Linked DNA regions of Homo sapiens. The protein of the gene in region 3 purifies or fractionates together with the protein of the main gene of each other region. This does not show direct contact. Each region holds a gene or a part of one and is shown on either strand. Other genes may lie near its edges.

Region 1 (3,652 bases), on a different chromosome or scaffold from region 3:
AGTAACCTTAAGACATGAAAAAGCCAGGCTGTGTCCTAGTCCCAAAAGGCACACTGATCCCTTTGCAGATAAACCTAACCAGGTATGAATCAGAAAGAATAGAATTTTATCAAATAGTAAAATAACTTCATTCATGAAAATTTCAACTGCCTTAAATTTTTTACCAGACATTTTAATGCCACCCATATAAATCTTTGCCTAAAGAAATAAGACATGTATATAGAAAAACCAGCAAACTAAAATAACAGAAAAATGGGGCCGGGCGCAGTGGCTCACACTTGTAATCCCAGCACTTTGGGAGGCCGAGGCGGGCAAACCATGAGGTTAGGAGTTCGAGACCAGCCTGGCAAACATGGTGAAACCCCATCTCTACTAAAAATACAAAAAAATTAGCCAGGTGTGGTAGCACATGCCTGTAATCCCCGTTACTCAGGAGGCTGAGGCCAGAGAATTGCTTGAACCCAGGAGGTAGAGGTTGCAATGAGCTGAGATCGCGCCACTGCACTCCAGCCTGGGCGACAGAGCAAGACTCAGTTTCAAAAAAAAAAAGGAAAATGGAAGCCCCCTACATTGGACCAAAGGAAGTCTGCAGCTTTTACATTAAGCAGACTTTACACTCAATTAGGTTCACCTAGTCTGTTTTTCTTCTCATCTTGGGAAACTAGCCATTTCCAGACATCTCTTCGTCCATATAATTGAAGAAACTAATGTCTAATAGGTAAAACCCTGTTTCTGTAATCTCAGGTGTAAATTCAAGCCAAGCAGCCTAGGGTATATATAATTTCTCAAAATGTGGTTCTTGACCACCAATCACCTAGATTCCCGGTCCCCACCTTATCCATTTGGGAAATAAAGTCCAGCAGTCAGCATTCTTCCAAGCTTCACTTCTAATCATTCTTTTAAGGCAGTTCTTATGCAAACTGAAATTTGAGAAGAACTAGTACCTCCAGTAAAGCTCTTTTTACTTAATTTGGAAAATATTCCTCTATCAGAAGGATTCAAGGCTGGGTGCACTGGCGCACGACTGTAATCCCGGCACTCTGGGAGGCTGAAGTGGGTGAATCACCTAAAGTCAGGAGTTCGAGACCAGCCTGGCCAACGTGGCAAAACCCTGTCTCTACTAAAAATATAAAAATTAGCCAGGCATGGTGGTGTGCCTGTAACAGCTACTCAGGAGGCTGAGGCATGAGAATCGCTTGAACTTGGGAGGTGGAGGTTGCAGTGAGCCGAGATTGGGCCACTGCACTCCAGGCAACAGGGCAAGACTCTGTCTCAAAAAAAAAAAAAAAGAAAAAAAAAGCATTCAAAGTAAAAAAAATTCTTATAGAAACAAAGAAATAAAAAACCAGGCATGGTGACTCACACCTGTAATCCCAGCACTTTGGGAAGATCATGAGGTGAGCAGTTCGAGACCAGCCTGGCTGGCATGGTGAAGGCCCTGTCTCTACTAAAAATACAAAAATTAGCCAGGCATGATGGCACGCACCTATAGTCCCAGCTACTCGGGAAGCTGAGGCAGGAGAATCACTTGAACCCGGGAGGCGGAGGAGGTTGCAGTGAGCCGAGATTGTGCCACTGCACTCCAGTCTGGGCGACAGAGCAAGACTCTGTCTCAAAAAACAAAACAAACAAACAAAAAAAGAAAACAAAGAAATAGGAATTTGATTTCCTTTTAACATCGTAAAAGCAACTGAGTAAACTTCTAGTTTCAAGTACATAGTCAGGAAAAATGAATAAAAAGTAAGGAGTTACCTGGTCCAATTTACGTTTCAATGTGGATACTTCCTTGGGGTTAGAAAAAGTGATATCCAATCCAGGTGAGATCGCATAGATGAACTCTATCTCATATTCTCGTGCAGCAGAGATGAGAGTCATAAGTTGCTCTAAAGAACAGAGTCTATGTTTTTAGAAAGCAGAACAGAAAACTAAAAGAACCTTCACTGAAGGTTTAACTGAAGAGGTTATTTCTTCTAACTTACAAGAAAGGAAAAGATCCTCACATTTTACAAATTGTCATGTCCAACTTAACAACAGGCCATACAAAATGGTACAAGCCTGAAGTGATTTAATGTCACAGTAAGGGAAAAAGAATAGTTTTCACACCTTTGAAATCTGAACCAACAGAAAATAAGAGGCCCTTCTTTTTCACTTCCAAATAGTTTCTTATCCTTTTGGGGAAACAGGCTAAAATCAATAAACATTTTCCTCCCTTTCATTGCCACTTCTCAAAAACACTGAATTGTCAATTCTCTTACTGAACTTAAGCCATTTCTATTTCCTGCAGCATTTGAAAGGCATAAAATGCAGCCGCTGCTTTTTTATTTTGAGAGCCTTGCTCTGTTGCCCAAGGCTGGAGTGCAGTGGCACGATCCTGACTCACTGCAACCTCCACCTCCTGAGTAGGTGGGATTACAGGCATACCCGGCTAATTTTTGTTTAGTAGAGATGAGGGTTTTGCCATATTGCCCAGGCTGGTCTCGAACTCCTGGCCTCAAGTGATCCGCCTGCCTTAGCCTCTTACAGTGTTGGGATTGCAGGCATGAGCCATGGTACTGGATCTTGCTTTTTTTTTTTGTTTTGCCATCTCTGAACAGCTGGAATTCCTAACTAAATAAACCTACACATAACTACTTTATAATATGAAAGAAAGAAAATGCTTTCTTAAGAATCAGGGTAGGCCAGGCCCAATGGCTCATGCCTGTAACCCCAGGACTTTGGGAGGCCAGGCAGGAGGACTGCCTGAGGTCAGGAGTTTGAGACCAGCCTGGTCAACATTGTGAAACCCCATCTCTACTAAAAATACAAAAATTAGCCAGGCGTGGTGGCGCATACTTGTAATCCCAACTACTAGGGAGGCTGAGGCAGGAGAATTGCTTGAACCCTGGAGGCAGAGGTTGCAGTGAGCCAAGATCGCACCACTGCACCCCAGTCTGGACGACACAGCAAGACTCCATCTCAAAAAATGAAAAAAAATGAAAAAAAAAAAAAAAAAAAAAAAAAATGAATCACACCTGTAATCCCAGCACTTTGAGAGGCCACGGCAAGTTGACTGCTTGAGTTCAGGAGTTTGAGACCAGCACAGGCAACATGGCAAACCCCTCTCTCTACAAAATATACAAAAATTAGCTGGGTGTGGTGACCCGCGCTTGTAGTCCCAGCTACTTGGGGGACTGAGGCGGGAGGATTGCTTGAGCCGGGGAGATCAAAATTGCAGTGAGTCACTGCACTCCAGCCTGGGTAACAAAGTGACAAACGCTGTCTCCAAAAAAAGAAAAAGAAAAAGAACCAGAGTTAAGTCATGGCCTTAACAATCTTGACCTGTTTCTATCTATGGGAAAAACATTAATTATAGATTTTAACCTTTTAAAATTATCAATTGACAATTTTCCTAAATCAACTTAACTACTACTAGTATATACTATAAGACATATTTTTGAATAATTTTCAGTAGTATCTCAAGATAGTCATTTTTACTCTATTTTGATTATTGATCACATTAAGTTTCATTACCAGCACCACCAGAAAGTAATTAAGTTGAAGGCACACTTAAATAGAGTAGTAAACCACAACACTAGATGGAGATGGGGTAAGCTGTAATTGCTTCTTTGTAATTCAAGAAAACTTTCAGCCTTCTGTGCCTTGGCTGGGCTCT
Region 2 (3,652 bases), on a different chromosome or scaffold from region 3:
AGCTACCTCAAATCCTTTTTATTTTTATTAATTAATTAATTTTATTTACTTTTTTAGACAGAGTCTCACTCTGTCACCCAGGCTGGAGTGCAGTGGCACGATCTCAGCTCACTGTAACCTCCGCCCAAGTGATTCTCCTGCCTCAGCCTCCTGAGTAGCTGGGATTACAGGTGCCCACCACCACACCAGGCTAATTTTTGTATTTTTAGTAGAGATAGGGTTTCACCTTTTGGCCAGGCTGGTCTCGAACTACTGACCTCAGGTGATCTGCCTGCTTCGGCATCCCAAAGTGCTGGGATTACAGGCGTGAGCCACCTAGCCCAGCCTCAACAACTTTTTAGAATGAGGAGCAAAAACAATCAAATGACAACCCACTCTTGTGGGAAAATCTTACCAGGAACCCTTACGGAGTTTTCTGGTTTTTTGTTTTTTGTTTTTTGTTTTTTTTTTTTTGAGACAGTTTCCCTCTTGCTGCCCAGGCTGGAGTGCAATGGCGTGATCTCAGCTCACCGCAACTGCTGCCTCCTGGGTTCAAGCAATTCTCCTGCCTCAGCTTCCTGAGTAGCTGGGATTACAGGCATGCACCACCATGCCCGGCTAATTTTGTATTTTTAGTAGAGACAGGGTTTCTCCATGTTGGTCAGGATGGTCTCGAACTCCCCACCACAGGTGATCCACCTGCTTTGGCCTCCCAAAGTGCTGGGATTATAGGCGTGAGCCACTGCGCCCAGCCCAGAGTTATTTTTGTAGTTATTTACTTAAAAGAATTTTCCCACTGTTAAGAGTGGGTAGATAGCTAGCTAGACATGAATGGGAGGGAAGAGCCCCTGAGAAAAGGGAGGTCTGGAAAATCCCACATCCCAGAGACCATCAAAAAGATGCATGCTGGCCAGGCATGGTGGCTGATGCTTGTAATCCCAGCACTTTGGGAGGCCGAGGTGGGTGGATCCCTTGAGGTCAGGAGTTCAAGACCAACCTGGCCAACATGGTGAAACCCCATCTCTACCAAAAATACAAAAATTAGCCAGGCATGGTGGTGCATGCCTGAAATCTCAGCTATTTGGAAGGTTGAGGCAGGGAGAATCGCTTGAACCTGGGAGGTAGAGGTTGCAGTGAGCCGATACTGTGCCACTGCACTCCAGCCTGGGCAATAAAGCGAGACTCTGTCTCAAAACAAAACAAACAAACAAAACATGCATGCTAGATATGAGCAGAGAGGAGGGAAAGAGGGTAAAGGAGAAATTCCAAAGAGACATTCAGGTGCAGTAAGTATGGACCTAACCGCTGTACAACCTTCCTGGGGTGGAGGTAATGAGCAATGCAGCCATTAGGTGGGATTCACATCCAACACCGGCTGTACATGTGCACCAACTACTAGTAAGAGAGGGTCCCACAAGCTTAGAGTAGAAATTAGGTGGGAGGAAAAGGTGGGGACTTAAGGCAGAAGCGGGAAAACTAGACAAAGGAAAAAGGCAGAAACTTTAAGACAGAGGTGGGAACTTCAAGAAAAACTCCAGCATCATAAAAACCCGATGCAGAACTCTCAGGGCTGCTGGCTCACTCTCTCAGCATCCCACTCTGCCTCATCTTTCAGAACGTACTGTCTCTCTCCATATAAATTCTCTGTTCTCTATTTCCCTTCAGAAAGCTCTCTGCTATCTCTGAATTGTCTCTTGGCCAAAATCTTTCTCCCAAGATGACTAAGGGCTGAGAATATCCCCACTTCCCGGTAACACCACCAGAGCTGTCTTCAAGCTCCACTTTAATGTGAAAGAAACTGGTTTTATGACTCCAACCCCACGTTCACAGAACAATCGAACTGGATTTCATCAAGCACTGGTCAAGCACTGCTACCTCTGTCTTGCCACACACGCCCAATGTCACTGAGGATTTATTCTGCACAGCGCCAATCTCACTCTCCAGTTTCAACACGCAGTCACCGAGGCCACCCAAAAAGATCAGGCGCACAAATGCATCCTCCTCACCCAGCCCTCCGGGGCCCGCCAGCAGGAACTCCTGTCTCCCTATCCTCTTGACGATCGGCGGCCTCTCCTCACTGCAGTAGGGAAACAGGTCCTGGGAGACGCCTGTGCTGTAATTGTGGATGATGTACTGAGTGGTCAGAGCCAGACACAGGAAGTGGCCGTCCACAGCCACAGCGAGGGGCTGCTCGGCAGTCGACACCTCCTTGACGATCTGCACCCGGTCCTCGTACACCAGAAACATCTGGATGGTTCTGCGTTTGACAGAGATGATGCAAACTTCTACACAGAAGGGGTCCCCACTCACAGGGTTCTCGTTCAGTGCAAACGTGGCTGCCCCCTTGATGCGGGCCCCCGAAGGCACTGGCTCGAGGTTCAGCATGTTGACCAGGCTGATGGAGTTGTCACACAGCACCAGCAGCCTGTTGAGTGCTGAGGCCGCACGCAGCTCGTTCACGGGCTTCTTGAAGCCCAAGTGTCTCTGCAGCTGTTTGGTGGCAGTGAACGTGGCTGGCCCAGCAGGCACTGGCCTCTCCTCCAACAGGAAGTGGTAGACGAAGCAGTCGTTGGTGCCCACGTAGAGGTCCCTGCCGCAGCACTCCACGCACTCTATGTTGACGCGCTCCTTGTCGCCCATCAGCAGCTCCCGCTCCACAGCAGAGACAAGCGTAAAGGCTTTGATGCTCATCATGTCTACTGGCTGATCTGCTGGAAGAGAAAGAGGAAAACTAATTTTAGAGGAACAAGGAAGAAGCAGAAACAGAGGCTGCAATAATGATACGTGGATTCCCTAGTTGTCATTTTCATTAAAGAAAGTCATTCCACGCTATCAAAAAATGGAAAGAAACCATTTCCCCACAGACCTCCCCCATCAGACAGCAGAAGACCCAAGAAGAAAACCACAGACACATACACACACACACACCCATATACACATATGTATGTGCTTGTGATCACGTGCCATCCTGCTCAGTCCCCACACAGAGTCACCTGGAGCCTCCTCACATTGCTCCTGGGAGACACGCTTGAAGGCAGAAGACAAATGCATGCATTCACCCACGGGCAACATAACAAAAGGATTTCTGTGAGGCAGGAGGATGGCTTGACCCCAGGAGCTGGAGGCCAGCCTGGGCAATATAATGAGACCCCATTTAAAAAAAAAAACAAAAAGGATTTCTGAAAAAGGCAGAAATGATCCTCACTGATCTTCCCTGAGTTTCTACAGCTACTTGAATATGCACTTTAGTCAATGAACACAACCACAGTCACAGGATCCTGCCAGGAACACCGAGGCAGACGCCAGGCCTTGGATTCCTTTGTGTTCTTCCCAATAAGGCAGGCGCATCAGCCTCAGCTCCGGAGTAAATGTATTCATGTGGAGAGTAAAGGTGTGCCTCGGATCTCGAAAGGCTTTCAGATGGTGAGTGGAGCTATTTAGTGGATGTGTGGACCGACCGGTCCCTGGCTCCCATTGGAAGTGAGACTTTCCCACACACTAGCCCGTCGCCTCCTACTTCATCTTCTGCAGAGAACTGTGGCTTCACACTCCACAAAGTCACAGGGAGAAGATCAGGCAAGGTGGCCTTTCTGACTTCTCAGGCAGCCAGAAGCAAACTCAAAGGCACAGTCCCTGTGAGCGGGAGCAGGGCAGGGGATCAGAGAGCTGGAAA
Region 3 (3,652 bases):
ATACCTGTAATAAAAAGTTCCCTTTGAAATAACGAGACCGGGTGAGACTGGTTAGAACCAAGATAGCTGACATAATGAAAAGACCTCACGTTTCATTATAATCTCATTTCCATGCTAAATGAAATGGTACTCCCACCAGTTCCATGACAGTTGGCAAATGACCGTAACAACTGCAAGAAGCCATAAAAGGACAAAAAGGATGGTGGCACTCCAGTTCTAGAAAGTTCACTGCCCATTTCTAGAAAAGACATGAATATTAATCCTCTTGCTTTTAATGTCCAATGCCTTCATTAGAAAACCCTATATTTTAACCCCCCAGCCTATCACTAGTGGAGAAGTTGAATTATGAGCCATGCTCCTGCTTCTCAATTCCATGGCCATCAAATAAAGCCTGCACTGCTTGATACTCACTTCTGGTTTTGTGTACTGGTTTTGTGACAATGAACAGGGAAAGACCCCATCTTTTGGGAAACCAGCTTTGTTGGTAACAGAGGCAGGTGTAAATGAAGAAAATAAAAGGGAGTCTTTTTTGAGTATATCTTTTTATAAGGTTTGACTTTTGAACCATGTAAATGTTTTATATTCTCCAAAATTAAAATAACAATAAAAAACGCCCCAAACTGAAAATTAAGTGAAATCAACTGTATAGCAAATTGGTATTACAACCATACAGAAAATAACTGTTTCAAGCAACTTTTAAGCATATATTCTGATCCTTGGTGGGATATGTTCTAAAGACAAAAGAACTGCAAAGAAATCTTACATTTCAGTTATTTTATTTTTAGAAAATCAGTATTGCAATTTTTAAATCATTTTATGTAAATTGTAGGAAAAGGCTAATGTATTAATGTAATTCAGAACCAAGTCCTTCGGTGTAACAGAAGAGAAATAAAAAACAGATAAGTTAAGCAAAAATAAATATAAATATAAAACAAAGTTGTTAAGCAAAAATCTTATAATATTAAACTGGAGTGGAAAATATCAATTAGGAATTTGATTGAATATTTATATATAACACTATATAATATTATATTATATATTTTTCTAATTCTCTTTACCAAAAAGATGCAGAATAAAGCACACCCTGTGCACATCTAGTATCCACATGTTACTTTTCAAATGCCATTTCCCACTAAATGAAACTAGGACTCCCTGAAGAAACAGTCTGATGCCAGGTCTCGACGAGGGGAAGCAAAGACTCATCTTTGTACTACAGAGCAAGAAAGTGCTCACAGGTGACGTAAAACACAGAAGTAAACTTTGACTGGGCTCCTGCTGCCTAATATGAAATTATTTGAACACCCCACCCCCCAAAAAAAGACTAATAATGAAAAATGGAATAAATAAAAATCCAAGATGTTACTGTGACAGTCCAAAAAAATAAACCCCACAACCCCGTTGTCCTAACTGTAATTGACTATTATACCAATTGCTTTCGTGAAAATTGGTAATTAAACAGAATTACATATTTTTTAATCTGATTTTCTGGATAACATGTAATCATCATTCACCATTTATAAAGGAAAATTCTTTTATTTACAAAAGAATGCCAGCTAATAAATGTCAAGAAATAATACAATTTTAAAAATAATTGTTTTGTAACCCCAAATATTATTTAATAAATGGAAGTAAAACTGTTTGTTGAAAGACTGTTAGGAAAGAGGATTGATCCACAAGCCAAAATATCACTGTACATATTACTTAATTATAAAGGGATAACATAAGTTTACAATGGAAAGATTGAGTAGATACCACCTTAACCAAATGATAACATTTAGTATCTCTAATGGCGGTACACCTCACAACAAAAACCTACTAATATGACACAAAATGATGTATGAAGCTTCATCTAATAGATATTTTTGCAAAAATATCTGACCTGAATCAATCCTTTAGACCCAACTTTCAGTTTACAGGAAATAAATGAGATTGAGGAAATAAATAATTGGTACCATGAGAAAACAATCAGATAATCCTGCATGTAGAACACAAAACTAGTTTGGAATTAGGATACAGATTATCAGAACAGCTCATATGATACAATTTAAAAAACAACGTATTAAAAAGAAATCATGAGAGATGAGAATGCAAAGGGGTCTAAAGGAAATAAATTACAGACAAGCACAAGTCCTTCCAAAATGAGAAGGGATCACAGGCACTGGGGAATTTGCTGAAATGGTACCTGGGCTGCAGAGAATCAAGCCTTCCAGGGTAGAAATACTCTGCTGGATTAAAGGGAAATGGCAGAGCTTTTAACAACTGCTTGGCTGTGTGACAGATTGATATCTTTAAGAAACTCAAATGTAGAGATAATTCTCCCCATTCTCCTCCTGATTCCCTCCACAGGTCTATTTATGAGTATGTGAAGGCAGCAACAGCACTGGTGGCTGCGAGTGGAACTAAAAAGCAGAAAAACATTAGGCTTATGTCCTGCAAGAGAGTTGCACCTGTAATACTCACAGAACAGGATTCATTCACTATCAAAGCACTTGAGACCAGAAGTGAATTGAAACCACCTAAAGAGGTCATCCAGCTCCAATACAGCTCAACTCCTGATGGTATCAAAGTGTTCAGTCTTTCATTCTAGCTGCCTTTCAGAGCAAAAAAAGCATGTCTCTCTGGAGAAAAAGGGTATTTATGCCAATCTCTTCTAAACACAATGCCAGTATAAAAACAGAATTATCACACATAAAGCAGGAAAAAATGACCCATAACCAAAAGAAAAAATAGCCAAAAGAAACAGACCCACAGATAAGACATGTTAGAATAAGCAGACAAAAACTTTAAAATAACTATTTTAAATTTATTTTTTTAAAATAGAGAAAAAGACAACCCAAATGGACAAAAACAGAGAACTTCAACAGAAAAATTAAATCTCTAAAAAGCCAAGTAACTATTATAGAAAAACTGGGAAAAATGGTATCTTAAAAACATCTTTACTGGTTAATGATAGATAAAAAAGCCAAGAAAGAAAAATCAGTAAAGATATATAGAATACTTGAACAACACTATTAACCAGCTTGAACCAACAATTGCAAAATGCAGAATGTGGGATATTCTACAAATTAACTGACATTTGTCTAAAAACTCAATGTTATGAAACAAACAAACAAAAAAACCAAGAACCTAAAGAATTGTAACCACCAAATGCAATGTATGAGACTTGATTGGATTTAGAAAAAAATACATATATATATAAATTTTAAAATATATTTTGAAGACAGAAAAATCTGAACTTATGAACTAAGTATTTTAGAAAATTAGATTACTGTTAACTGTCTTAATATGATGACGGTGTTGTGGTTATGTAGAAAAATTTCCTAATTCTTAGGAGATGTGTGCTAATAGATTTAGGGATAAAATGTAATGTTATCTGTAATTTACCTTCAAATAGTTCAGGAAATAGTGTGTTTATAGTATATATTTCTCTGTATTTAAAGAGCTAAAAAAGGCAAATTCCTTTATTGAAGGTATAGCTATACCTGTATATTGCATTTTTTTCTCTGGCTTTTAATGATTCATATTACATATAAAATTTTATTATTCTGTCCTTGGCAGGATAATGTCAGTAAGGCTTACCTCATATAACATATTCCCATAAGTTTTAAGTATAACAAGAAGCAAACTTTTGTCCAACCCTTTTTAAAGCCCA

What was found.
Region 1: the proteins of SAMTOR (region 3) and OGA purify together in Homo sapiens (affinity purification with mass spectrometry; 2 studies listed by BioGRID and IntAct, with this or other methods). This does not show direct contact.
Region 2: the proteins of SAMTOR (region 3) and TGFBRAP1 purify together in Homo sapiens (affinity purification with mass spectrometry; 2 studies listed by BioGRID and IntAct, with this or other methods). This does not show direct contact.

The regions. Positions count from the first base shown.
Region 1 is NC_000010.11:101,808,432-101,812,083, forward strand, and holds part of OGA (protein O-GlcNAcase), read right to left. Parts: intron 1,884-3,652; coding exon 1,753-1,883; intron 1-1,752.
Region 2 is NC_000002.12:105,305,629-105,309,280, forward strand, and holds part of TGFBRAP1 (transforming growth factor-beta receptor-associated protein 1), read right to left. Parts: intron 2,691-3,652; 5' UTR 2,674-2,690; coding exon 1,986-2,673; intron 1-1,985. UniProt on the Homo sapiens protein: Plays a role in the TGF-beta/activin signaling pathway. It associates with inactive heteromeric TGF-beta and activin receptor complexes, mainly through the type II receptor, and is released upon activation of signaling.
Region 3 is NC_000007.14:112,908,850-112,912,501, forward strand, and holds part of SAMTOR (S-adenosylmethionine sensor upstream of mTORC1), read right to left. Parts: intron 1-3,652. UniProt on the Homo sapiens protein: S-adenosyl-L-methionine-binding protein that acts as an inhibitor of mTORC1 signaling via interaction with the GATOR1 and KICSTOR complexes.